Homo sapiens: one gene and its partners. The protein of the gene in region 4 purifies or fractionates together with the protein of the main gene of each other region. This does not show direct contact. Each region holds a gene or a part of one and is shown on either strand. Other genes may lie near its edges. The genes, in order: TGS1, ATP1A3, INTS7, TMEFF1, SLC39A10, HADHB and EXOC1.

What was found.
Region 1: the proteins of TMEFF1 (region 4) and TGS1 purify together in Homo sapiens (affinity purification with mass spectrometry, with the first as the bait; one large-scale study listed by BioGRID). This does not show direct contact.
Region 2: the proteins of TMEFF1 (region 4) and ATP1A3 purify together in Homo sapiens (affinity purification with mass spectrometry, with the first as the bait; one large-scale study listed by BioGRID). This does not show direct contact.
Region 3: the proteins of TMEFF1 (region 4) and INTS7 purify together in Homo sapiens (affinity purification with mass spectrometry, with the first as the bait; 3 studies listed by BioGRID). This does not show direct contact.
Region 5: the proteins of TMEFF1 (region 4) and SLC39A10 purify together in Homo sapiens (affinity purification with mass spectrometry, with the first as the bait; one large-scale study listed by BioGRID). This does not show direct contact.
Region 6: the proteins of TMEFF1 (region 4) and HADHB purify together in Homo sapiens (affinity purification with mass spectrometry, with the first as the bait; one large-scale study listed by BioGRID). This does not show direct contact.
Region 7: the proteins of TMEFF1 (region 4) and EXOC1 purify together in Homo sapiens (affinity purification with mass spectrometry, with the first as the bait; one large-scale study listed by BioGRID). This does not show direct contact.

Annotation. Positions count from the first base shown.
Region 1 is NC_000008.11:55,818,446-55,821,945, forward strand, and holds part of TGS1 (trimethylguanosine synthase), read left to right. Parts: intron 1-3,500. UniProt on the Homo sapiens protein: Catalyzes the 2 serial methylation steps for the conversion of the 7-monomethylguanosine (m(7)G) caps of snRNAs and snoRNAs to a 2,2,7-trimethylguanosine (m(2,2,7)G) cap structure.
Region 2 is NC_000019.10:41,980,731-41,984,230, forward strand, and holds part of ATP1A3 (sodium/potassium-transporting ATPase subunit alpha-3), read right to left. Parts: intron 1,377-3,500; coding exon 1,178-1,376; intron 1,102-1,177; coding exon 992-1,101; intron 907-991; coding exon 772-906; intron 1-771. UniProt on the Homo sapiens protein: This is the catalytic component of the active enzyme, which catalyzes the hydrolysis of ATP coupled with the exchange of sodium and potassium ions across the plasma membrane.
Region 3 is NC_000001.11:211,945,058-211,948,557, forward strand, and holds part of INTS7 (integrator complex subunit 7), read right to left. Parts: intron 1,649-3,500; coding exon 1,550-1,648; intron 1-1,549. UniProt on the Homo sapiens protein: Component of the integrator complex, a multiprotein complex that terminates RNA polymerase II (Pol II) transcription in the promoter-proximal region of genes.
Region 4 is NC_000009.12:100,570,649-100,574,148, reverse strand, and holds part of TMEFF1 (tomoregulin-1 precursor), read right to left. Parts: intron 1,632-3,500; coding exon 1,473-1,631; intron 1-1,472. Other genes in the region: MSANTD3-TMEFF1 fusion protein, read right to left, coding at 1,473-1,631.
Region 5 is NC_000002.12:195,660,226-195,663,725, reverse strand, and holds part of SLC39A10 (zinc transporter ZIP10 precursor), read right to left. Parts: intron 1-3,500. UniProt on the Homo sapiens protein: Zinc-influx transporter. When associated with SLC39A6, the heterodimer formed by SLC39A10 and SLC39A6 mediates cellular zinc uptake to trigger cells to undergo epithelial-to-mesenchymal transition (EMT).
Region 6 is NC_000002.12:26,286,439-26,289,938, reverse strand, and holds part of HADHB (trifunctional enzyme subunit beta, mitochondrial isoform 1 precursor), read right to left. Parts: intron 22-3,500; coding exon 1-21. UniProt on the Homo sapiens protein: Mitochondrial trifunctional enzyme catalyzes the last three of the four reactions of the mitochondrial beta-oxidation pathway.
Region 7 is NC_000004.12:55,856,648-55,860,147, reverse strand, and holds part of EXOC1 (exocyst complex component 1), read right to left. Parts: intron 1,835-3,500; 5' UTR 1,825-1,834; coding exon 1,701-1,824; intron 1-1,700.

The DNA of each region.
Region 1 (3,500 bases), on a different chromosome or scaffold from region 4:
TGATTCCCAGTTTTCTAGACCAACTCTGTTCTTGGTGAAATCAGTGCTTAATCATACACTGCAATTCAGGATAAATATATGATCAGTTCCTAATATTTACTAGCCAGCTTTTCCCTTGGGAAGTTTGCTGCTGCACAATTAGAGCAGAATCGTTTGTTCTTAAACCATATATATTGTCATGCTCTAGAGGGGTTGTGGAACTGATTGGCCTCATAGTTGACTTGGGAAGACACAAATGCAGCTTTGCTGAAATGCTTCTAAATATAGCTTGTATCTCCTTCACTACTGTGGGTAACTTTTCTCCGTAAATGATGGAGATAGAAATTAGAGGGATATCCAGCTCTTCTGGGCCACACATAGTGCTACCTGCCAGTCCTGTGCTGATAGCCTGTGCTTTCTGTAATTTGTTGAATTGAACAGTCTTCATGTTTCCAGTATCTGGTTCTGAGAATGAGTGAAGGACAGAGCTTAGTGAACTGGTTGTTTTTGGGTTTTGGTGGGGTTTTTTTCTTCTTTGGAGACAGAGCCTCGCTCTGTCCACAAGGCTGCAGTACAGTGACATGATCACAGCTCACTGCAGCCTCAACCTCCCAAGCTAAAACAATCCTACCTCAGCCTTCAGAGTAGCTGGAACCATATGCATGGGCCACCATGCCTGGCTAATTTTTTTATTTTTTGTAGAGACAGGGTTTCACCATGTTGCCCAGGTTGGACTTCTAGGCTAAAGCAATCTTTCTACTTCAGCCTCCCAAAGTTCTGGGATTACGGGCATGAGCCACCGTGCCCGGCCTGGTAGCCTCCTCTTAGGACACCAGTGTAGGTTAGCTTGTGATGCCTGGGAGATTTTTTTTTTTTTTTTTTTTTTTTTGAGATGGAGTTTTGCTCTTGTTGCCCAGGCTGGAGTGCAATGGCCTGATCTCAGCTCACCACAACCTCCACTTCCCGGGTTCAAGCAATTCTCCTACCTCAGCCTCCCAAGTAGCTGGGATTACAGGCATATGCCACTATGCCCGGCTAATTTTTTTTTTTTTTAGTAGAGACGGGGTTTCTCCATGTTGGTCAGGCTGGTCTCGAACTCCCGACCTCAGGTGATCTGCCTGCCTCAGCCTCCCAAAGTTCTGGGATTACAGGTGTGAGCCACTGTGCCTGGCTGCCTGGGAGAATTTTTTTGACCTGCCACCAGGTGCTCCTGTTGATGATGGTGGCTTTAAGATTTATTTACGGAAGCATAGAAATCTCATTTCTGTTTACCATGTGCAGAGAAATGGAACTAATTTAATGAATATTTTTAAGTTTGAATGATGCCTGATTTTCTGCTGACTAAAAAATATTTTCTTCTTTCACCTCCCAGAGAACTTTTAATTACCAGAAATGTTTTGCCAACTTTGTTTTATTTTCATGTGGTTATTAGTTGGATCTAGCAAAAGAAAAGAGGGACAAAAATAACTAGTGGCAAAGCACTTTCTTGGCCTGTGTGACATTAGGTTTGTAGTCACAGCCAGTATTTCAGATGCTTGCTGCTGCTAGCATTGTATTTGACACAGATCTGAAGGCCACATAAAATGCTCTTTATTTTTACCTGGTACAATTATCTTCTAACCACATTTCTGCGTATCATAGATATAATCTCTTCCATGTAGTAATAGGGCATTTTTCAGCGCTCTGATGTTTCTGTGTCTTTCTTGTAATAAAGTGTATCTGTCATTAGTAATTATTATCTATTCTTCCAGTAGGATGCAGTTGGGAGGTTATTTTCTCTCATTCGGTTATCGTGCACTTTTACTTTAAATCCAGTTTCTCTTGAAAAAATGCAGTTTTGCTCCAGGCGCAGTGGCTTAAGCCTGTAATCCCAACACTTTGAGAGGCCGAGGCGGGCGGATCACCTGAGGTCAGGAGTTTTGAGACCAGCCTGGCCAACATCGTGAAACCCTGTCTCTACTAAAAATACAGAAATTAGCCAGGTGCGCCAGTAATCCCAGCTACTCGGCAGGCTGAGGCAGGAGAATCGCTTGAACCCAGGAGGCAGAGGTTGCAGTGAGCCGAGATCATGCCACTGCACTCCAGCCTGGGCGGTAGAGCCAGACTCGTCTCAAAAAACAAAACAAAACAAAAAAAAAGTGCAGTTTTGAATGTTTACCTTTTTATTTGATGCTTAAATCTTCTGTGCTTTAACACCTTCATTGTGATCTTTTCTGTTTCTCCTTTGCCAGTCCCCAAAGAACAGCTTTACTGCCTGATGTCAAATCTAGTCAAGAGTTCAGTCCTTAATTCTAGTTCTGGTCCAAATTAATTGGGATTTATTTTGGTAAAATTAATATATTTAGGTAATATGCCAAAAATGTGGAAAGTAATCCAGAGCTGCTAATCTTTATCTGTTTGTACCTGCCGTTCTCCCTCTCTCTGTCCTTCCTACCCTCTCTTCCTCTCACAATTTACTAAATTCTAAGAAAGCGGAGGGAACCAAATAATATTTTGTCAGCTAAACCTTCTAGTGAAAAATAAGGACAGCTAGAAATTAATGGCATTCATTAAATTTGCCTGAAGCAAAGTTATTTGCTTGAACTACTAAATTTATAAGTCTTTCCAACTCCAAAATTCTAACTTTTAACATATATGTAGTTGTGAAAATGTGAAAACGTACAAAAAGGCTAAAGTTAGAAATTATTCGTAATCAGAACACTTGAAAGTAACATGTTAAGTTTTTAAAAAAAAATTGTTTCTAAACACTAAGTACATAAGAGTTTTCTCACTATATTTTGTCACATAGATACACCACCTTCTCCATTATCAGGAACAATATTTGTTTTATTTGTCCGTCATCTGACTCTCCCAGCCAGAATGTAAAATTCATGGAGGTGGGGATTTCTTGTTTGTTTTTTGCTATACTGCACTGCCTAGAACAGATACCTATAAGCTCTCAATAATAGTTATTGAGTAAAGTAATTTATGAACTGTTTTGCACAGACTTCAGAACTCATGATTTCTGAGAAAACCCCCATCTTACCTCCGTTTTTTATTTTAATCCCAAGCACCCACATCTAGACAACCCTCTGAAAGGTATTAAGAAAAACAAAACTACCCTACCTTCTCAGAAATTGGTTTTTATGGAATTCTATTTATGGCTTATATAAGAAATAATAACCATCGGCCAGGCACGGTGGTTCACGCCTGTAATCCCAGCACTTTGGGAGGCCGAGGTGGGTGGATCACGAGGTCAGGAGATCGAGACCACCCTGGCTAACACGGTGAAACCCTGTCTCTACTAAAAATACAAAAAATTAGCCGGGTGTGGTGGCGGGCGCCTGTAGTCCCAGCTACTCGGGAGGCTGAGGCAGGAGAATGGCATGAACCCAGGAGGCAGAGCTTGCAGTACTAGCCGAGATCACGCCACTGCACTCCAGCCTAGGCAGCAGAGCGAGACTCCATCTCAAAAAATAATAATAATAATAACTATATTTATAGTACCTTTATTTTTTTTTTCAAGTAAACTTCAGAAATGG
Region 2 (3,500 bases), on a different chromosome or scaffold from region 4:
GAAACCCCGTCTCTACTAAAAATACAAAAAATTAGCTGGGCATGGTGGCGGGCGCCTGTAGTCCCAGCTATTCTGGAGGCTGAGGCAGGAGAATGGTGTGAACCCGGGAGGTGGAGCTTGCAGTGAGCTGAGATCGCGCCACTGCACTCCAGCCTGGGTGACAGAGCGAAACTCTGTCTCAAAAAAAAAAAAAGTTTGCTGAATAATTTAAAGTTGCTGCTCTGCCCCAAGAGGTCTCCTGCTTGTTCCCACTCTCTGCTGTAGGAAAACTTTTTTTTTTTTTTTGAGTCAGGGTCTTGCTCTGTCACCCAGGCTGGAGTACAGTGCGTGATGTAGGCTCTCTGCAGCCCCAACCTCCCCGGCTCAGGCAATCCTCCTGCCTCAGACTCCCAAATCGCTGAGACCACAGGCACATACCACCACACCTGGCTAATTAAAAAAAAAATTTCGTACAGATGGGGTTTTGCCATCTTGCCCAGGCTCGTCTCGAACTCCTGGCCTCAAGTGATCCCCCCACCTCAGCCTCCCAAAGTTCTGGTGTTAAAGGTGTGAGCCACCGCGCCTGGCCTGCAGGAAGATCTTTACTCCTCAGCGTCTCACTCCAACAGAGATCCGGCTCCCACTCTCAAGCTCTCCCTGTTCCTCTCCCCACCAGGCGGGTATTATCATTCCCATTTTACAGACGGGAAAATCAAGGCTCTATGACACCTCTTTACAGGCGTCATAAGGAACCTGAGGTCCAGGCTGGCTCTCCCGGAAAGCCCAGAGTACCTGGTATTTGTTGGTGGAATTGAAGGGAATCTCAGCCACTTTCTTGTTGCGTTCACGCATCAGCTTCACGGAGCCAGAGGACAGCTCGATGCACTTGAGCAGGGCAGACTCAGACGCATCCCCAGCCACATCCCTCTGCAAGGAGAAAGGGTTGTCAGAACAGGGACAGCTGAGGGGAGGACACAGGCAGGGCCGAGGTGAGGCCAGTAGCTGAACCCACCTTGAGCACAGGGATGTTGTCCTGACCACCCTTGAAGACAGCGCGATTGCAGAGCCCAGCGATGTGAGACAGGGCCACCCAGGTGTGCGAACTCTTGTCAAATGAGGTCCCTGGGGGAGGCATGTGTGAGGGCCAGGGACTCCTGGAGCCAGGCCCCCATGGTCCTCACCCGGGGCCTGCGCTCACCTGACTGGTCCTCAGTGGTGTCAGCCTCGTGGATCTGGTTGTCAAACCACATGTGGGCGACTGTCATGCGGTTCTGAGTGAGGGTCCCTGTCTTATCTGAGCAGATGGTGGACGTGGAGCCCAGGGTTTCTACAGCCTCCAGGTTCTTCACCAGGCAGTTCTTCCGGGCCATGCGCTTGGCGGTCAGCGTCAGACACACCTGGAGGACGAGCAAGGGCAGGCAAGTTACAGGGACAAGCCCGGCAGCAGGGTTGGATGAGCGACACGAGGGCCACAGCCCAGCTGCCCAGCCCCCAGAGAATCCTGAGGGCCTGGAAAAGAATGAGGCAGCACCCAGCAATGCCACCCCCAATTCAGACCAATAGAAACAGGGCAGAGACACCCAAAGACAGGGACTAGAATGCTCATAGCAGCCACATGCATAATAGTGCAAAACAGCCAGGTGCAGTGGCTCACGCCTGTAATCCCAGCACTTTGGGAGGCCGAGGTAGGCGCATCACTTGAGATCAGGAGTTCGAGACCAGCCTGGCTAACATGGTGAAACCCCATCCCTACTAAAAATACAGAAATTAGCAGGGCATGATGGTACACTCCTGTCATCCCAGCTACTTGGGAAGCTGAGGCACGAGAACCCCTTGAACCCAGGAGGTGGAGGTTGCAGTGATCCGAAATCGTGACACTGCACTCCAGCCTGGGCAACAGAGTGAGACTCCAACTCAAAAAAAAAAAAAATTGTCCAAAACTGCAAACTACTCAAATGTCCACTAACAGCAGAAAAGATAAATTGTGGACAATGGAATACTAACATTGATAAAAACAAATACATTACTGCTGCCTGCACCTGCATGGGTGAACGTCAAAAACATGTTCAGCCAAAAAGAGCCAGAAATGAGTTCATACTGAATTATTCCGTTAATAGGAAGTTTGAACACAGGCAAAGTTAATCTATGCTGTTAGCAGCCAGATCAGGGGTTACCCTTGGGTTGGGGGGCAGGGGCTAAATAAGGTCTTGAGGGGGCTTCAGGGAGACGCAGTCTCGTTGCAGCTGACGTGATTCTGTTCAGTTTGCCCCAAATCATCAGACTATGTGCTCACAATATGCTTAATCCTTTGCGTATAAAAATCCATTTGACATAGGGTAGCATTCAACATTGCTAATATGGAAAACAGTAAACTTTTTTTTTTTTTGAGACACAGTCTTGCTCTGTCGTCCAGGCTGGAGTGCAGTGGCTCGATCTCAGCTCACTGCAACCTCCACCTCCCAGGTTCAAGCAATTCTTGTGCCTCAGCCTCCCAAGTAGCTGGGATTACAGGCGCCCACCATCACGCCTGGCTAATTTTTGTATTTTTAGTAGAGATGGGGTTTTGCCATGTTGGCCAGGCTGGTCTTGAACTCCTGACCTCAAGTGATCCACCCACCTCGGATTCCCAAAGTGCTGGGATTACAGGCGTGAGCCACCCTGCCCGGCCCTAATATGGAAAACTTCACATAAAACATTAAGTCAAAGAATGAAAGAGGAGAATGGTATTTCTAAGATAGTCCCTGCCATGCACCTTGAAGACAGCATTTAGTCAATATGCTCACAGCTGTCAGGCGGAACCTCACAGAGAATGGACTTCTGGGGTGAAGCTGGCAGCAAAGCAGCCAGAGAAAAAATTTTTAAAAATAATAATAATAATTATTATTATTATAATAATTATTATTATTATTATTTTCTTGAGATGGAGTCTCCCTCTGTCACACAGGCTAGAGTGCAGTGGTTCAATCATGGCCCACTACAGCCTCAACCTCCCGGGTCAGCCTCCCAAATAGCTGGAACTACAGACATGTACCACCACGCCTGGCTAATTTAAAAAAATTTTTTTTTTTTTTTTTTTTTTTTTGAGACAGAATCTCGCTTTTGTCGCCCAGGCTGGAGTGAGGTGGCACGATCTCGGCTCACTGCAAGCTCTGCCTCCTAGGCTCAAGCTATTCTCCTGTCTCAGCCTCCTGAGTAGCTGGGATTCCAGGCACCCATCACCACGCCTGGCTAATTTTTATACTTTTAGTAGAGATGGGGTTTTGCCATGTTGGCCAGTCTGGTCTCGAACTCCTGACCTCAGGTGATCCACCCGCCTCGGCCTCCCAAAGTCTTGGGACTACAGGCATGAGCCACTGCGCCCAGCCTTCACATTTTTTGGTAGAGATGGGTTCTTACTATGTTGTCCAGGCTTGTCTCAAACTCCTGACCTCAAGCAGTCCTCCTGCCTCAGCCTCCCAAACTGTTGGGATTAAAGGCGTGAGCCACTGCGCCAGGCTTATTATTTTATTTTATTTATTTAT
Region 3 (3,500 bases), on a different chromosome or scaffold from region 4:
TAACAAATTCGATTGTGCACTCCCCCACCCCCACAGGACCTGACTGTGCCAGGACAACGAGACAGATGTACCTTTAAAGTGCCTCCTTCTAAACATCACTGTGGTTTTCATCCCAAACCTCAGTTCTATTTGAGGATAATAGAGAATTAGAAAAAAGCAAAGGCACTATTCTCCCAATTTTTGTGGTGAGGCATTTCTTTGACAATGAACCACTTCTAGTAGGGAAAGGCATTATATAAATTTTCATTACCTAAGAGCTGTCTCTTTGGTCTTACGTAATTTTAAATAAACTAAATTCAAATGTAAATGAACTTAAAGTTCCAGGATTATCTACACAACGAAGTCACTGTGCTATAAAAAAAGTCAATATCTACAAATGAATCAAATGACATTTTTCACCTCTCATTAGTTTTTCTTCAAAAATGTATTAAAAATCCCAAACACATCAATTAAAGAAAGCCCAAGTCTTGCTAAATGAAAAGATGGAAGAAATTTGAGTCTTTTTGATAATGTTGTTGAACTACTGATCAACCCTGGAGACATCCTACTTTAGGACTTCTTATCTAGATCGTCAAATCTTCCTCATTATTCCAGTCATTTTGAAATGGAATGCTCTGTTATTTGTAATCAAAACATTTGCATGGATGTAAAAGTTTACTGAAGACATTAACTAACAGGGATAATCCAGGAGATCTCTTAGAAGTGACAATTTTCTCCCTTTTCCAACAATTTCATTTTCTGAATCAAAAATAGCTTTTGAATTGTGAGTGGCTTAAATATTTCAAAATACTAATTCTACTCACTGGTTAGCCCCTCAAAACATGTTACTGAAAGGCAGAAGTACTTTGGAAGAAGAACTGGTGACAGTTTACTGGATCTGATTCATTCTAAGTTGGGTCTATAAGTTGGGTCTGAATAGACTCAGCTCAAGATCCTTGCAGGCTACTGTGATAAATCACTAATTTATTCCTGGAGGTGAGAGACAAACAACAGAGCTCCAGTTACCCAAATGCCTGTCTCATAGAATTTGGCACTGACAATTAAAAAGGGAGAGAGTTTAACTCCCAAATTCATTTCTTTCACCAAACCACTTGATAAAGGAGAGAAATGGCTTACAACTAGGTTTTATCAAAACCAAAGGTAAGCCAGGCACAGTGGCTCATGCCTGTAATCCCAGCACTTTGGGAGGCAGAGGTGGGTGGATCACTTGAGGTCAGGAGTTCCTGACCAGCCTAGCCAACATGGTGAAACCCCATCTTTACCAAAAATAAAAAAATCAGCTGCGTGAGGTGGTGGATGCCTGTAATCCCAGTTCCTTGGGAGGCTGAGGCAGGAGAATCGCTTGAACCCGGAGGTTGCGGTGAGCCAAAATCACACCACTGTACTCCAGCCCAGGCGACAGGGCGAGACTCTGTCTCAAAAAACAAAACAAAACAAAAAAACCAATAAACCAAAGGTAACACACTGAAGTGTAGCTATGTCCTACATAATCTTCAGAAGACACCTGGTTTTAAAACCTATATTAACCTTAGTATTCTTCCTGTATTACCTTGATGCTGGTAGACTGTAGTTTCTGGAAAAAATATCTCTGGAAAGAAAGGGGAACTTTCAGCAAAGCAATGATGGCATTGCAGAGGCATGCTGTGTGCTGGGGGAAAAAAGAAACTAAATCAAATAAAAATAAATTTTCAAATTTCATCAACAAGTGGTACATTCAGTATAAAACTACAAATGCCCATATAGATTATTACAAAGGTACATACCAATCAAGAACTAGGCATCACATCCAGGAACTGTGCATACATACTAAATCATTCATTACAGATTTTTACTTTATTGTGAAGTATATTCAATAAAATATAAGTGACAGAAATGAGAAAATCCACAGTCCTCGAGGCCAAGCAATAGGCAAATTCCACATTTCTACAGCGCTCAGAACTATCAGTATATTATTAAACAATTATATTAGATACTAAAATATAGAGTAACTATCACATGGCAAAGTATGATAAACAGTATGGTAAAGAAGCCCGAGCATTTTGCAGGACTTTGGCTTTGAGCTGGCTCATTCTTTCATTAGGTGGCTTGTCTCTATGGCCATTGGTCCTCAGAGTAAGCAGTGGTGGAAACTTGGTCGAATTCAGATGAAAGAGGACTATATAGTCGGGGAATCCTGAAACTCTAATAAAATATCTTATTTCTCAAATCTGCCTCACACATTTAACTGAGTTTTGAAAATCCCAGCATGACTGCAGAGGTACAGAAACACCACAGAGAATATTTTGAGCCTTAATGAAAGTGGTCATAAAATCAGAATTTAAGCGTTCAAAGATATTTTAAAGATTACCCAGTCTAATAGAAGAAAACTGAAAGTATCATAAGAACACTTTTAACTTCAGGTGAACCAGAACCATTCCTGCTTGGTCTACTATCCCTTCCTCAGTCTACTCCCGTCTCAGTGGCCTCGTAAGTCACCACAGTGAGGCAGCGCTCCTTTCACGGGGGCACTAGCTGCGGGAGGTCTGTTCTTGCAGACCCGATTCAGCAACGGATAAATAAAGTATGCTGACACACAGATATTCTGCTCTGCCAGTCCAGCTGAGGGTCCCAGCCGCTTACAGGCTCCTGCTGAGTCCTGTAAACAGTTGCAACTAGGCCCTGATCAGCTAGTCAGACTCGCATTTATTCAGTAAGATTAATTAACAAAAGCTTGAGTCAACACCATTAGAGGGAAATTGACATTGTGGACTTCTGAGTAAAAGGCACTTAAGCACTCACGGTACATCAAAGGTTAGTCTTTATATGAGTAAACAAGCTAGCCAGGTAAACTACTCTGCCTTTCTTTATTACTATTTTAATTTGTTTAAAGGTAAAGAGATCAGGCCGCCTTCAGCCAGATCTATTACTGAAGTTAGGCAAACTTCTCAGCCTTCCAAGAAGATTTGTGTCTATTTCTATAACTATCTCTAATATTTTTCCCACCAGCCTGATTGAAACCCAACACCACAGGTTGAAAACTGCTGCATGCACCATGTGGTATGCTGTCTGTCCCTCTAGGCTCCTGCTTTCAAGCAGAGTGTCACCTAGTTGCTCATGCTGTAAACATTTTTTTTTTTAAAGTTGGGTGTTAAGGCTAAAAGCCAGAAAAATCCATTCCTTATTGGGTTCAGGCAATTGAACATTTTGTGCCCAACAGACTCATAGTACAAATGCCAAGTCTATTACCTGAGATAATCACAACACAGATTTAAAGACACTGGTTCTATTTTTTCAGATTTAACTGTTAAAATAGCATTAATCAGCTTCCTGCAACAAGTAATTTGGAAAGTATTTGCAGAGACATCCACCTTTGGTGGACCTCTGATGCCACACTAGTGTCTAAGGAGAGAAACATCTTTGAAGCGTGGACTCAGAGGACCACAAGGGACTTCAGGCTGTTTTCAGGCAGAAAGTCACCATTTTGCCTTTTAAAAGAATGGTGCAGATTTTGCAATACCCTC
Region 4 (3,500 bases):
CTGCTCCCATGCAATGGTCATACTGGGCAAACATGTTTCCCAAGATGACTCAACATGGAACCTTTCAGTGTAAAGAATGAATGGGAATCAAACTGAATCCAAATCCAGACAATTCCACTTACTAGTCGGATGACCACAGACAAATTACTTAACCTCTGAGTCTATATTAAATGGCTACAGCCAGTCATGCTGTTAAATGTGTTTTCCCTATCTTCTCTTTCTGTTATCATTATTTGTTACATGATTATGTCCCTACTTTGATCTACCGTCCAATTTTATATTCAGTAGTCTTGCCTAAGGGCAGATCATCTGTTCTGTGAAATAAAGCGCACTGACTTTCATGCCTAGGTGTTATGAAAAATATCTGTTACTTGGAGAACCTTTTCTTTTTTATCATTTCTAGATTTATCATCTCAGCTCCAGATGGCTGAGACTACTGAAGGTCTGGCTTCTATCCAGACCTTGGATAGAAGGGCCACAAATCCATTATGGCCTGCCAATATCTGTATTTGATATGCTTCAACCCTCTGCCCAGAATAATGCAGGGAAGTGGAGAAATGATGCTTATGAGACTTCTGAACTGAAGCTTAAAGAAAGAGGTAAGCAGGAAGAAAAGCATTAGACTGGGAAGCACAAAGACAACACGAACTTGCTGGATTTACTCTGACTTTTCTCAGGCCCAGTTCAGTCTGACTTATGTATTTCTACTCAGTTTAGAAAAGACCCATTTTATGCCACTGCACTCCAAATAAGTCATTTAATTTATGACGAATAATTTTATTTATAATACAGAATTTTAAAGCTTATTACTTATCGCTGCAATCCTGAAAATGAAGTAATGTTAACACCATGATATCACAATAAAACTATCTTCAGCCTCTGATTTCTTCCTTTCTTACTATACTAACTGTGAGTAAAGTACGTTCTTAGGGCACAGAACCCCTTGCAGTTGTGCAGGGCTTAAAAATCTTCTGCATGGATCTCCTATGCATGTGCAGATCATTCTAGAAATTCTGAGCCAGTCAGGGTGGTTCACGCCTATAGTCTCAGCTACTCTGGAGGACCACTTGAGCCCAGGAATTTGAGGCTGCAATGAGCTCTAATTGCTACTGCACTCCAGCCTGGGCAACAGAGTGAGGCCCTGTCTCTTAAAAAAAAAAAAAAAAGATTGCTACTAACATTATTTTCCCAGAATACAGTGTTCAAAGACTGTATACAGTTCTCAGATCCCTAAATTCCTTTATCTCATTGACTATTCTCATTCCCTCTCTGCTTGTCGCCCAGATATACCTGTAAGACTGGGAATTAGTCCCTGCCCGTATCCTAAAGAAGAAGGATAGGGAGAGACCACTGAAAACCTCAGGGAACTGATCATAAGATTTTTCCTAATAGACTGGTGGCCTCAAAGCATCTATAAATAAACAGTTGCCTGCCTCTAATTTAAAGTTGATATTTCTTACATCATTACCTACCTTGTTATGCACATTACAATTGCTACTATGATGGCAATCTGTACAGCTCCAATAATTGCTGCAATAAGAACATGAGTGAGCTTTTGCCTACTTGGCACTACATAGAGAATACTAAAGTCTGTCTTTTCACAGTGCTGTCCAGTGTAGCCAGATTCACATCTGAAAAGGAAAAATATATATATTCCTATGAAAATTACAAATTTTGATACTCCCAAGCTTTTACATTAAAAAATACAAAATAGTAATAAAATTTAAACAGGAATAGGATATCATGCACTTTCCTACCATCTGGGGGAAAAATGTCATTTGTATGTTTCCCTACTGTCTTTCTGATATGCCTACATGGTGCGTCTTTCACCTAAGTTATATCACATTAATTTTAAAGTTGCTGAATATTGTTAATGTATATCTTTTTTTGTTATTGTTGCTTTTGCTTTTGGTGTCATATCTAAGAAATTATTGCCTAATCTAAAGCCACAAAGATTTACTCCTTTTTTTCACTTTTTAAATTAAATTTGCTTAAAAATTGACAAATAAAATTACGTATATTTATCATGTACAACAGGGATCCCCCCCAACTCCCGGGCCATGGACAGATATTGGTCCATGGCCTGTTAGGAACCAGGCCACACAGCAGGAGGTGAGTGGTGGGCAAGTAAGCAAAGCTTCTTTGTATTTACAGCTACTCCCCATCACTCACATTACCACCCAAGCTCCGCCTCCTGTCAGATCAGCACTGGCATTAGATTCTCATAGGAGCGCAAACCCTATTGTGAGCTGCGCACACAAGGGATCTAGGTTGAGTGCTCCTTATGTGAATCTAATGCCTAAGGATCTGTCACCGTCCCCCATCACCCCCAGATGGGACTGTCTAATTGCAGGAAAAACAAGCTCAGAGCTCCCACCAATTCTACATTATGGTGAGTTGTATAATTATTTCATTAAGTATTACCATGTAATAATAATAGAAATAAAGTGCACAATAAATGTAATGCACTTGAATCATCCCCAAACCATCACCCCCACCCCCAATCCCCAGTCCATGGAAAAACTGTCTTGTACGGAACTAGTCCCTGGCAACAAAAAGGTTGGGGACCACTGATGTACAACATGATATTTGGAAATGTATAGACATTGTGGAATGGCTAAATCAAGCTAATTAACATATGCATTACCTCATATAGTTATCATGTCTGTGGTGAGAACACTTAAAATCTACTCTCTTAGCATTTTTTTCAAAATAGATACATATAATTTCAAAACAGAAATATAATACTCCATCCAGTGACTATAATATAGCTAGCATTATCTATTCCCAGTTCTAAGACATGTCAGTTATTTTCAATTTTTCACAATTATAAATTAGATGTGGTAAACATCTTGGTGAATATGCGCTTTTCTATATTTAGTGTTATTCCTTAGGGCTAAGTACCTGAAAATTAAGACTATTGAAAAAATAGGTATAAACATTTACAGTCCTCTGAACATAGCACCAAATTATATTCAAGACACTTTTCAGTGTATAAAATATAAACATGTAAGATGCAAGGGGAAGATGAAAATAAGTTATTAATAACAGAAACAATGTCAAGCAGTCAAGGAGGTAAGCTGTAGGTGCTAATCTTGGAAATTATCTGAATTCCAATTAAAAGTAGATAAAAAGACAACTGCATCAGCTGATGATAATTTGACAGGGAGAAATATTTAAGACACTTAACAGACAATTTACATTTTTAAGCTGACAGCAGTGAAATGTATAAATTAGCCAGCCTTCAGTGAGAACTGATTAATAAAACATTTGAAGTATAAAAACAGTATTTATGAATGTCCCACAACTCATTAAGAAAAGAATTTGAGGCAGCTTATCGCAAAGCACACATTAAAACAACAAAAAAGAAATGTGGGAGGAGGGAAACAGGGAAATCCAGGGGTGCTGCAAGTCTACCAATCCAGTCCCTGAGGTTCCTAGACACTTCCCAGTACATTTCACATTGGGCTCTACGCTTTCCAGCAAACAAAAAAAAACAA
Region 5 (3,500 bases), on a different chromosome or scaffold from region 4:
TTTTCTCTTATTTCTTTTTTTTTCATAACTTCTATATTCTTGAAACACCATAAAATCAAAATCTTAAAAACAGTATATTCCAAACATTAAAAAATTATGAAAATATGATATGCTTTTCTAAAAAAGGTCCATGGGAATAGAAAACATGATCTCACTGCCTTATAATGTATATATACACAGAATACGTTATGTGTATATTATACTATCTTATTATTACGTTTTCTTACATTGTTTTACTGATCTCATTTTATAATGTAGTAACACACCATGTATTGTTTCATTTATATTGATAAAGTATTTAAATAAATCTTTCCCTAGCCCCTTTCATCAAGAAGCTATGTTCCTCTATAACACAGTGCAAAGTATATTTCTTCACATGCAAGCAAAATAATGTAAGGAGTCATCTTCAGTAGAAGTGCACTGAGTTAATATACCAAAATATTTGTTTAAAGGCCTGTAAGCATGCAGTTTTGAATTGCTTTATGAGGGGAGTGAGAAGATAGGAGGGAAAGGGGAAGGGAAAGAAGACATGAGACATAGGCGGCATAAAAATATGATCCATTTCCTGCTCTGAGAGAGTTACAAGGAAGACACAATCAGCTTTTCAATTAGAAAAGGTAAACTGTGAGAGAGCTACATAAGTAGCTACAAACAGTGTGACAGTTCGGTGGTAACCAACAGTTGAAGGCCAAGGGCTTCACATTCCTTTTCCGACTCCAAGCATAATAAAGCATAATTCCCTCTGCAGAGGAAAAATGGAAAGCGGAAAGAGACAAAAAGCTTCTCTACTATGTAGGTAAAGAACACCTGCAAATTCACATTACCTATGAATTGATCATTTGACTGAACATTTTTCTACTAAAGTATTTTACCGCAAGAGCAGCTATAGACAATACACACATCAATAAGCAAGTTTTGTTCCAACAATTTACAGAAGCAGGGATATTTGGCCCATAGTTTGCTGATCCAAATTTAATTTACAGATTTTTTTTTAAAGTGCCAATCCAGCAGACAATTATAGGGGAAACCACTATTTTAAAACTCAAAAATTCAAATATATAAAAGTGAATTTAGAAAAAAGCCTAGAGGTGGGAAGGCAAGGAATATCTGAAATTGTTTCTTTTTATTTATAGATATTAAAGTAATAGCATAGGCTGGGCACGGTGGCTCATGCCTGTAATCCCAGCACTTCAAGAGGCCAAGGCAGGTAGCTCACTTGAGTTCGAGTTTGAGACCAGCCTGGGCAACATGGTGAAACTCTTGTCTCTACAATAAAAAATACAAAACATTAGCTAGGCATGGTGGCACACGCTCCCGTATTCCCAGCTACTAGGAAGGATGAGGTAAGGGGATGACCCAAGCCCAGGAGGTCAGGGCTGCAGTGAGCCCTGATCTCACCACTGCACTCCAGCCTGGGGAACAGAGATACTGTCTCACAAAAAAAAAAAAAAGGGAACACCACAGTAGGATACATATCTCTGATGTTCTTACTACACTAAAAGTGACTGAGGTTTTTCTTCTTCCTTTATTCAATGAAAATCTAAAACCTAAAGTGATCACTGATTAAATCTTCATTATAGAGGATTAAAATTAACCTCCTTCGTAGTTCACAGTTCTTATAACAATACTTCTCGTCCTATGGAAGTACATAATGATATTAATAAGGATACATCCTACAACATTCTTGCTTTTCTAATCCCTAAAAATCTTAACGGGATGGGCTGTCCCCCAAAGTCGAGTATATAAAAGGGTAAAATTGATTAGAAATATTAATACAAGGATAAGTATTATCTGATACCTCCCTTTCAGCAGTATCTAAAAATGAGTAATTATAAAACATGATTATAAAAGGTTATGACAAAATATTTACTTTTAGATTGTGAAAATAAACACTACCTGAGCAAGATTTTAGATTTTGTCCTTATACTTGTACAAGCCTGCAAACCTGTATCACCAGTAGCATCCTATTCTAACATCTTTTAACATAAAAATATCTACCATTAAAAATCTATTAAATAACCACTCCTTGTATCTGGCAATCCAAAAAAACCCTTACGTTCTGATAGGAAAACAGTATTCGACACAGAATTACTGATGTGATACAATGAATTGTGTCCTGTTTTAACATGTCTGAACATTGTATGTGGTCTCCTAAGCAGTTAATTTGGAAATAATTTAGTATTACTGGCTGGGCACGGTGGCTCATGCCTGTAATCCCAGCACTTTGGGAGGCCAAGATGGGAGGATTGCCTGAGCCCAAGAGTTTGTGACCAGCCTGGACAACATGGCAAGATCCTTGTCTCTATATAAATAAATACATACTATTATTTAAAACTGTAATTTTGATTCTATATTTCTTCATACCTACTATACTTTTAAGCATTCCACTAATTTTTTATTGAGAATATGTTTGGATATTTTAGAAAAAGCTAAAAGTTATCCTGTGGCCTATCCATAGAACTTATAAGGGATAATAAAAAGAAAAAAAAGAGTTTGAAATACTGATATTGCAATAATCTAAATAAAACCTAAAACCTTAAGAGTTTGCATTGACTACAGAAAATCCTTTCTGTAAAGTAGATTTTGTAGAATGTTATCTGTTCATTGCCTTTGTGTAGTGGTATATTGTGTTATAATATCTGTGTGTAAACTGAATACTTGGGTTTCATTATAGTATTCACATAAAATAATATTAATGATATAAAAAAGGAAATCTTGTGGCTATGAAGAGGTCCTTGAAACTATTTTTTAAGAATCATTCTATAAAAGTCATAGAAAATAAATTCGAATTTTAAAAAAAAGCTCACAATGTAAATTTAACACTTTCAAACTTTATTATCAGTACAGTCAAAGCAATACAAAGTTATATGGAACTAAATTAATCTAGAAAGTAGATTTTTATATCATTCAAGATAAGGAGAAGCCCAGATTAAATATATAAAATTGTTGTTATTTACACAGCTAACTTCCCGCTTTGAAAACAATCCCATACGTAAATTTCTTTTTTGGAGCAAGGTAACTTGGTGATTGTTCTATCTCTACCCAAAATTCACCCCTATTTGGAAAACTGGGGGCTAAAAGCAATCAGAATTCACCAGTTCAAAAACACTTACGTCCATCTTATTAGCAACACTAACTACCCAGAGGAAACTAAAATAGACCAGATTTACAGCAGTAAGTAAATCTAATTGTAATTTAAACATTACCTTATTTTAGCAAAAGGTGAAGGGAATCAAACGCTAGGGGGCAGCATCAAACTGTTGTGGGTTAGGCTGGGCAGCCTTGCAAACTTTAAGCTTTAGGGTATTTTTAATGAGAATTACACTTACATAAAAGATGAATTATAAAACTTCCGTTATAAAGGAAAAAACTAGTTGTTTTGATTCCCTACATTTCTCTTCCATTTCCCATTGTGTACTTTCTTTTGCAACTATGACTGGTATCACTTTAAAATGCACTAGTAATAATGTCCTTCTGATACTAAACTCATGGCATTTCCA
Region 6 (3,500 bases), on a different chromosome or scaffold from region 4:
TTCCACTATCATAGCATGGCCCTGTAAAGAAAACAAAGTCCAATTAGAGCAATGAATGGTGATGAATCCACCTAGTACAGGGACAGCAGAGAACAAGGAGAAAAGTACAGGCTTTGGAGTGGGATCCTGGCTCTGCCAATCAATCACTGTGATCTTGGGAAAGTTTGTAGTCAGTCTAAACTGGAATTTCCTCTACAAAATGGGGCTCATAGTGTCTACTTCATAGAGTTTTTGTGGGCATCACATAACATACAGTATATTTGTATATGTGTGTATATATATACACACACATATATATTTATATACATTCATATATACATGTATACATATATGCATCAGGCTCTGTCTAGTACAGAATCTAATTCCTAGTGATGCTCTACAAATGGATGCTGTTAAAATGAGAAATCCAGGGGCTTTTTTAACTGTATAAACATAAACATGATACAGCAAATACCAATAAAAGTAAGTTTCTAGAGGGGAAAACTGAGGCTCTGAAAGGTTAAGTGACTCACCCAAATCACAAAGCTATTAAGGTAACAGGGCCAGGATTTGAAACCAGGTCTAGATGATTCCAAAGGCTGGGCTTGTCCCTTCTTCACTATTCTACACAGGTTAAGATAATGATCTGAGGGACCACAAAGGGAAGAAGTAGAATATCTTTCTTTTTTTATTTTTTTTATTTATTATTTTGGAGACCGTGCCTCGCCGTTGCCCAGGCTGGAGTACAGTGACGCGATCTCAGCTCACTGCAAGCTCCGCCTCCCGGGTTCACGCCATTCTCCTGCCTCAGCCTCCCGAGTAGCTGGGACTACAGGCGCCCGCCACCACGTCCGGCTAATTTTTTGTATTTTTAGTAGAGATGGGGTTTCACCGTGTTAGCCAGGATGGTCTCGATATCCTGACCTCGTGATCTGCCTGCCTCGGCCTCCCAAAGTGCTGGATTACAGGCATGAGCCACTGTGCCCGGCCAGAAGTAGAATATCTTTTATCCAGCACTATGCACAGTGCTATGTACTAGCTATGTCCTTAGTTTAGATGAGTCTAAATCCTAGCATAGAATTTTTAGACACCCTCTAAAAAACAAAAAAGTAAATAAAAGAAACTATTATTTACAAAGTGCCAAGTTGAACACTGCAGGTTTAAAGATTTGCCACATGGTCTTTGTCCTCAATCAAGTATACACTGGAGTTCAAAACAAACTGTTAAGTACTTGGTTTTTCTGTTTTTTTTGAAACAGGGCCTCCCTCTGTCACCCAGGCTGGAGTGCAGTGGCCTGAACACGGCTCACTGCAGCCTCAACCTCCCGGGCTCAGGTGATACTTCCACCTCAGCCTCCCGAGTAGCTGGGACTACAGGCACCCACCACCACGCCCAGCTAGTTTTTGTATTTTTAGTAGAGATGGGGTTTTGCCATGTTGTCCAGGATGGTCTCGAACTCCTGAGCTCAAGCAATCTGCCCACCTCAGCCTCCCAAAGTGCTAGGATTACAGGCATGAGCTACCACACCTGGCATGTTAAGTACATTGAAAAGGCACAAGCAGACAAAAAAAGAGCAGGGATAGGAAGGTTTGACTGACTTGGGGGTTGTCCTGAAAGAATTCATAATAAGGTAGACTACTCCTCTCTGGCTTGCTTATTTTATTTTTTATTTATTTTAATTTCTTTATTTGCTTTTTGAGACAAGGCAACTCTGTCACCTAGGCTAAAGTGCAGTGGCGTGAATACAGCGCACTACAGCCTCAACATCCCGGGCTCAAGCAATCCTCTCACCTCCCTCCTGAGTAACTGGGACCACAGGTGCGTACCATCATACCTGGCTAATTTTTGTATTTTTGGTAGAGACGAGGTTTTGCCATGTTGCCCAGGCTAGTCTCGAATTCCTGCGTTCAAGCCACCCAGCTGCCTTAGCCTCCCAAAATGCTGCGATCACAGGCATAAGCTACCGCACCCAGCCCTCTCTGGCTTTATTTTAAACACACTGTTTTCATGTTCCATGTTTTTTCTTGCTCTAGATCAGATTTGGCAACACCTGGAGATACTTTTGGTTATACCAACCGTGTGTACCTGGGGCAGAGGTGGGGAGGAGCTTGTTGCTACTGCTATCCGATGGGTAGAGGCCATGCTAAACACCCTACAACACACAGCCCCCCAAAACAAAGAATTGTTTGGCCCAAAATGTTAGTGCCAAAGTTGAGAAACCCTGCTCTAGATTCACCACGATGGATTTCTCCTCTGTCTCCAACCATGTTGGTATTGCTCACGTGGCTCTTGATCAAACAATGTCAAGTTTAATCTAGTTTCTCAGATGCATCTTATCTTCTCTCTTCATACTATAAACTTCTAGAAGAAAGGTGCTAGGTATTATTCCTTGTTCATCCATAAAAGCATCCAGTATTGTGTTATTTATACTCTACATGCTAGATAAAGAATTAGGGAACACATACTCAAATCTGCAGACATTACCCTATGTGGATTACGCACTATGCTCGTGAGTAATGTGTACAGGTTATCTCCCTGGTAGAAGCCTGGCATGAAGAGATAGAGGGATCGCTCTAGTCTTAATGGACCATGGTTTTCTGTAGATGAAGTTACACAGATTAAAAAGCATTTGTGATCATAAAGTCCAAAATGTTCCAACTGATAAATAACTGACCCCTTGGTTTCTGCAAAGTCTCTGAGGAAAATCCATGAAAAAGGGCTTTTAAACGTAAGATTTATTTCATTTACTTTATTTTTGAGACAGAGTCTCTCTCTGTCACCAGGCTGGAGTGCAATGGCGCCATCTCGGCTCACTGCAACCTCCACCTCCCGGGTTCAAGCGATTCCCCTGCCTCAGCCTCCTGAGTAGCTGGAATTACAGGCGCACACCACCACACTAGGCTAGTTTTTATAATTTTAGTAGAGACAAGGTTTCACCATGTTGGCCAGGCTGGTCTCGAACTCCTGACCTCAAGTGACCTACCCGCCTCAACCTCCCAAAGTGTTGGGATTACAGGCGTGAGCCACTGCACCCGGCCAGTTTATGCTTTTAAATATTTATTCATTTTGATCAGGAACAGGAAGTTTCTGTAATCTAGAGGAAGAGAAAATCTGTTCACATCGGGATTAAAAAAAAAAAAAAAAAACAAAAACAGGCCAGGCACAGTGGCTCATGCCTGTAATCCCAGCACTTTGGGAGGCTGAGGTAGGCGGATCACCTGAGGTCAGGAGTTCGAGACCGGCCTGGCCAATACGGTGAAACCCCGTCTCTACTAAAAATACAAAAAAAATTGCCCGGGCTTGGTGGTGAGCACCTGTAATCCCAGCTACTCAGGAGGCTGAGACAGGAGAATCGCTTGAACTCGCGAGGCAGAGGTTGCAGTGAGCCGAGGTGGCACCACTGCACTCCAGCCTGGGGGACAGAGTGAGACTCTGTCTCAAAAAACAAACAAACAAAAAACAAACTACAATCTTCCTTTTGGATTTTATTCCTAGAGTGAGATGCTACAGCAGTCAGGAAG
Region 7 (3,500 bases), on a different chromosome or scaffold from region 4:
AGGTAAAAATCTAAAGAATGATTGACATAAGTAAAGTCTGTGAGGCTTGAAAGAGCAAAATACCATTTCAAAGAGCAACAATACATTTATATATAAAGTTCTTACTATGTTGCCCAGGCTGGTCTTAATTAAACTCCTGGGCTCCAGCGATCTGCCCACCTCAGCTTCCCTAAGTGCTGGAATTACAGGCATGAGCCACTGCTCCTGGCCTAAGAATTTCTTTATAGCAATGCAAGAATGGCCTAATACAAATACATTACGATTGAGTGAGGTCATTCTAAAAAGTCAATTTATCATTTCAAAAACCAAGTACAATTATATACTACACTAACAAGGAAGAAAATTTTATGATATCAATGATATGAAAAAGCAGTTGATAAAATTCAACTCCCATTCATGATTTTTTAAAAAAGTGTAAGAAACCAGGAATAGAAGGGAACTTACTTAACACTGTAAAGTATAGCTATAAAAACCCTATACCAAATACCATGCTTGAAAATGAAGTCATTCTCCTTGAGATGGAGACTGTATTGATAGTCCTAACTAGGAAACTAAACCAACAAAAATAAAAGATATAAAAACTATAAAGGAAGGAAGAAAAATATCACTACTTTCAAAAAGTCTACATATAATTAGAATTAATAAGAAAGTTTGGCAAGATTGATAGACATCCATATAAAACACCAACAATTCATTGTAGAATTCTAACAATATATGATTTTAAAATGTATTAATGTTAATAAGCGCTTTCACGACTATCAAATAAAATCTAAGAATAAACCAATACTCAGGAGTAAATCCAAGAATATACATGACAAACCTTTAGAGAAAATGATGAAACTTATAAAGTTAAAAAACACCTAGATAAATAGAGAACTGTACCATGTTCATGGACACAAAGATTCAATACAATAAAAATGCAAGTTCTCTCCAAATTGAACTATAGGTTCAAAACAATTCCAATCAAAATCCCAACAAAGTCTGAAACTCGACAAGTTGTTTCTAAAATTTAGGTGGAATAAAGAACAAAAACAAAATAAAAATAACATATAAGATGACAACCAGAAATGCTCACACACACCATGACAGATGTCAACACAGGTGAACTAAGACTAAACTGTAAAAGGCAAAATTATAAAACTTTTGAATTTAGGAAAATATTTTTATGACTGCACAAAAGATACAGGGAAGGATCTTTTAAGACACCAAAAGGGAAAGCCATAAAGGATTAATTAATTTCATTTAGTTTAAATTATAAATTTCATTAACAGGCATCATAAAAAGTGAAAAGACAAGCCACTAACTGGGATGCATACAACCAACAAAAGGTTGATAACCAGATTATAGAAAGAACTTGTACAAATCAGTAAAAGGACAAGCAACACAACAGAAAAATGAGTAAAAGGCTTAAACAGGTAAATTTCATACACAACAGAATGAAATGACTAAGAAATTCATGAGAAGATGCTCAATCTCATCATTATAGGGAAATATAATTTAAAACCACAATGAGATACTATTTCACTGCCACCAGATTGACAACAATTAACAGCCTGTCAAAGCCAAGTGTTAACTAGGAATGTGTTGACCCAACAATTTTTCCAATTACAGAGACAATGAGGATATTCAAAACAAAGAGGAAATATCTTCTAAATAATAAAAGGATACAAAACAAGTACTCTTTCTTACTAAATACCCACCTGTGGCACATAAAAAACAGTTCTTTTTCTTTTTTCCTGCTTTGCAGACATTCACAATGCTCAGCAGGCGTTCATCATTTGGTGTAAAAATGTCTCTTTGTAATGCATGCTTGATTGCTGTCATCTTTTCTCAGCTGAAAAATGTGGAGTATAGATATTAAGCTCACCCTCAACATCATTCCATCTTATACTTCTGAATTTATGATTTGAAAATAATTTTTGGTTAACAAGCCTAGGAAAAATGATTTAATATATGAATACACCTATATCACAAAAATACAAAGCTGTAAGTTTGGAAATAAAATTAGAGAACCAGTGTTATCAAACTCTAAAATGTTTGGAAATGCTCACCAAGTATACACACACACACAAGATTTAAGAAAAAAATCTTCAACCCACTGCTCAAACTTTTAATATAGTTTTCTACATAAAGAACCCTTACAACAATAAGAAGACAAATAACCCCATTAAAAACTGAATAAAAGACCTGAACAGACATTTTTCCAAAGATATACAAATGGCCAATAAGCATATGAAAACATGCTTAACATCACTGGCCACTAGGGAAATGCAAATCAAAACCACAATGAGGTATCAACCACTTTACACCCATGAGGGTGGTTAAAATAAAAACGATAGAAAATAACAAGTGTTGGTGTAACAAGTGTTGGTGAAGATGAGAGGAAACAGAACTCTCATACATTGCTGGTGGGATTGTAAAATGGTGCAGCCACTTTGGAAAACAGCTTGGTGACTCCTCATAAAGTGAAACATGGGCTACCTTATAATCCAACAATTCCACTCCAGGAGAACTGAAAACATATGTCCACACAAAAATTTGTACATGAATGTTCATGGTAGCACTATTTGCAATAGCCAAAAAATGGAAATAACAGAAATGTCCATCAAATGATACATAAGCAAAATGTGGTATATCCATACAATGGATTATTATTCGGCTGCAAAAAAAACAAAGGGCCGGGCACGGGCGGTGGCTCACGCTTGTAATCCCAGCTCTTTGGGAGGCCGAGGCGGGCGGATCAAGAGGTCAGGAGATCGAGACCACGGTGAAACCCCGTCTCTACTAAAAATACAAAAAAATTAGCCGGGCATGGTGGTGGGTGCCTGTAGTCCCAGCTACTGGGAGAGGCTGAGGCAGGAGAATGGCATGAACTCGGGAGGCGGAGCTTGCAGTGAGCCGAGACTGCGCCACTGCACTACAGCCTGGGAGACAGAGCCAGACTCTGTCTCCAAAAAAAAAAAAAAAAAAAAAAAAAAAGAAAAAAAGGAAATGAAGTAATGAAACATGCTAAAATATTGATGAATCTTGAAAAGATTATGCTAAGTGAAAGGAGTCAGCCACAAAAGACCACGTATTGTATGATTCCATTTATATGAAATATCCAGAGTAGGAAAATCCATAGATACAGAAATATAAGTGGTTTTCGGGAGCTGGAAGGGAAGGTGGAAACGAGGATTGACTGTTAATGGGTATGGAGTTTCTTTTTTGGGGTGATGACAATGTCTTTCAACTAGATAGTAATGATGGTTATACAACCTTGTGAATATGCCAAAAATCACTCAATTATACAATTGAAAAGGGTAAATTTTATGATACATAATCTCAATAAAACTGTTATAAAAATAGGTTTCCACTTATCTCCTTTTTCTTATCTAACTCAGCATCTTTTCAAACATCAACTTAAAATAATTTTAAATCTCTATTTTATTTTTCATATACATATTTGTGTGGATATGTATTACAATTTTTCAATGCAAATGTGTAGTATTTCATACATG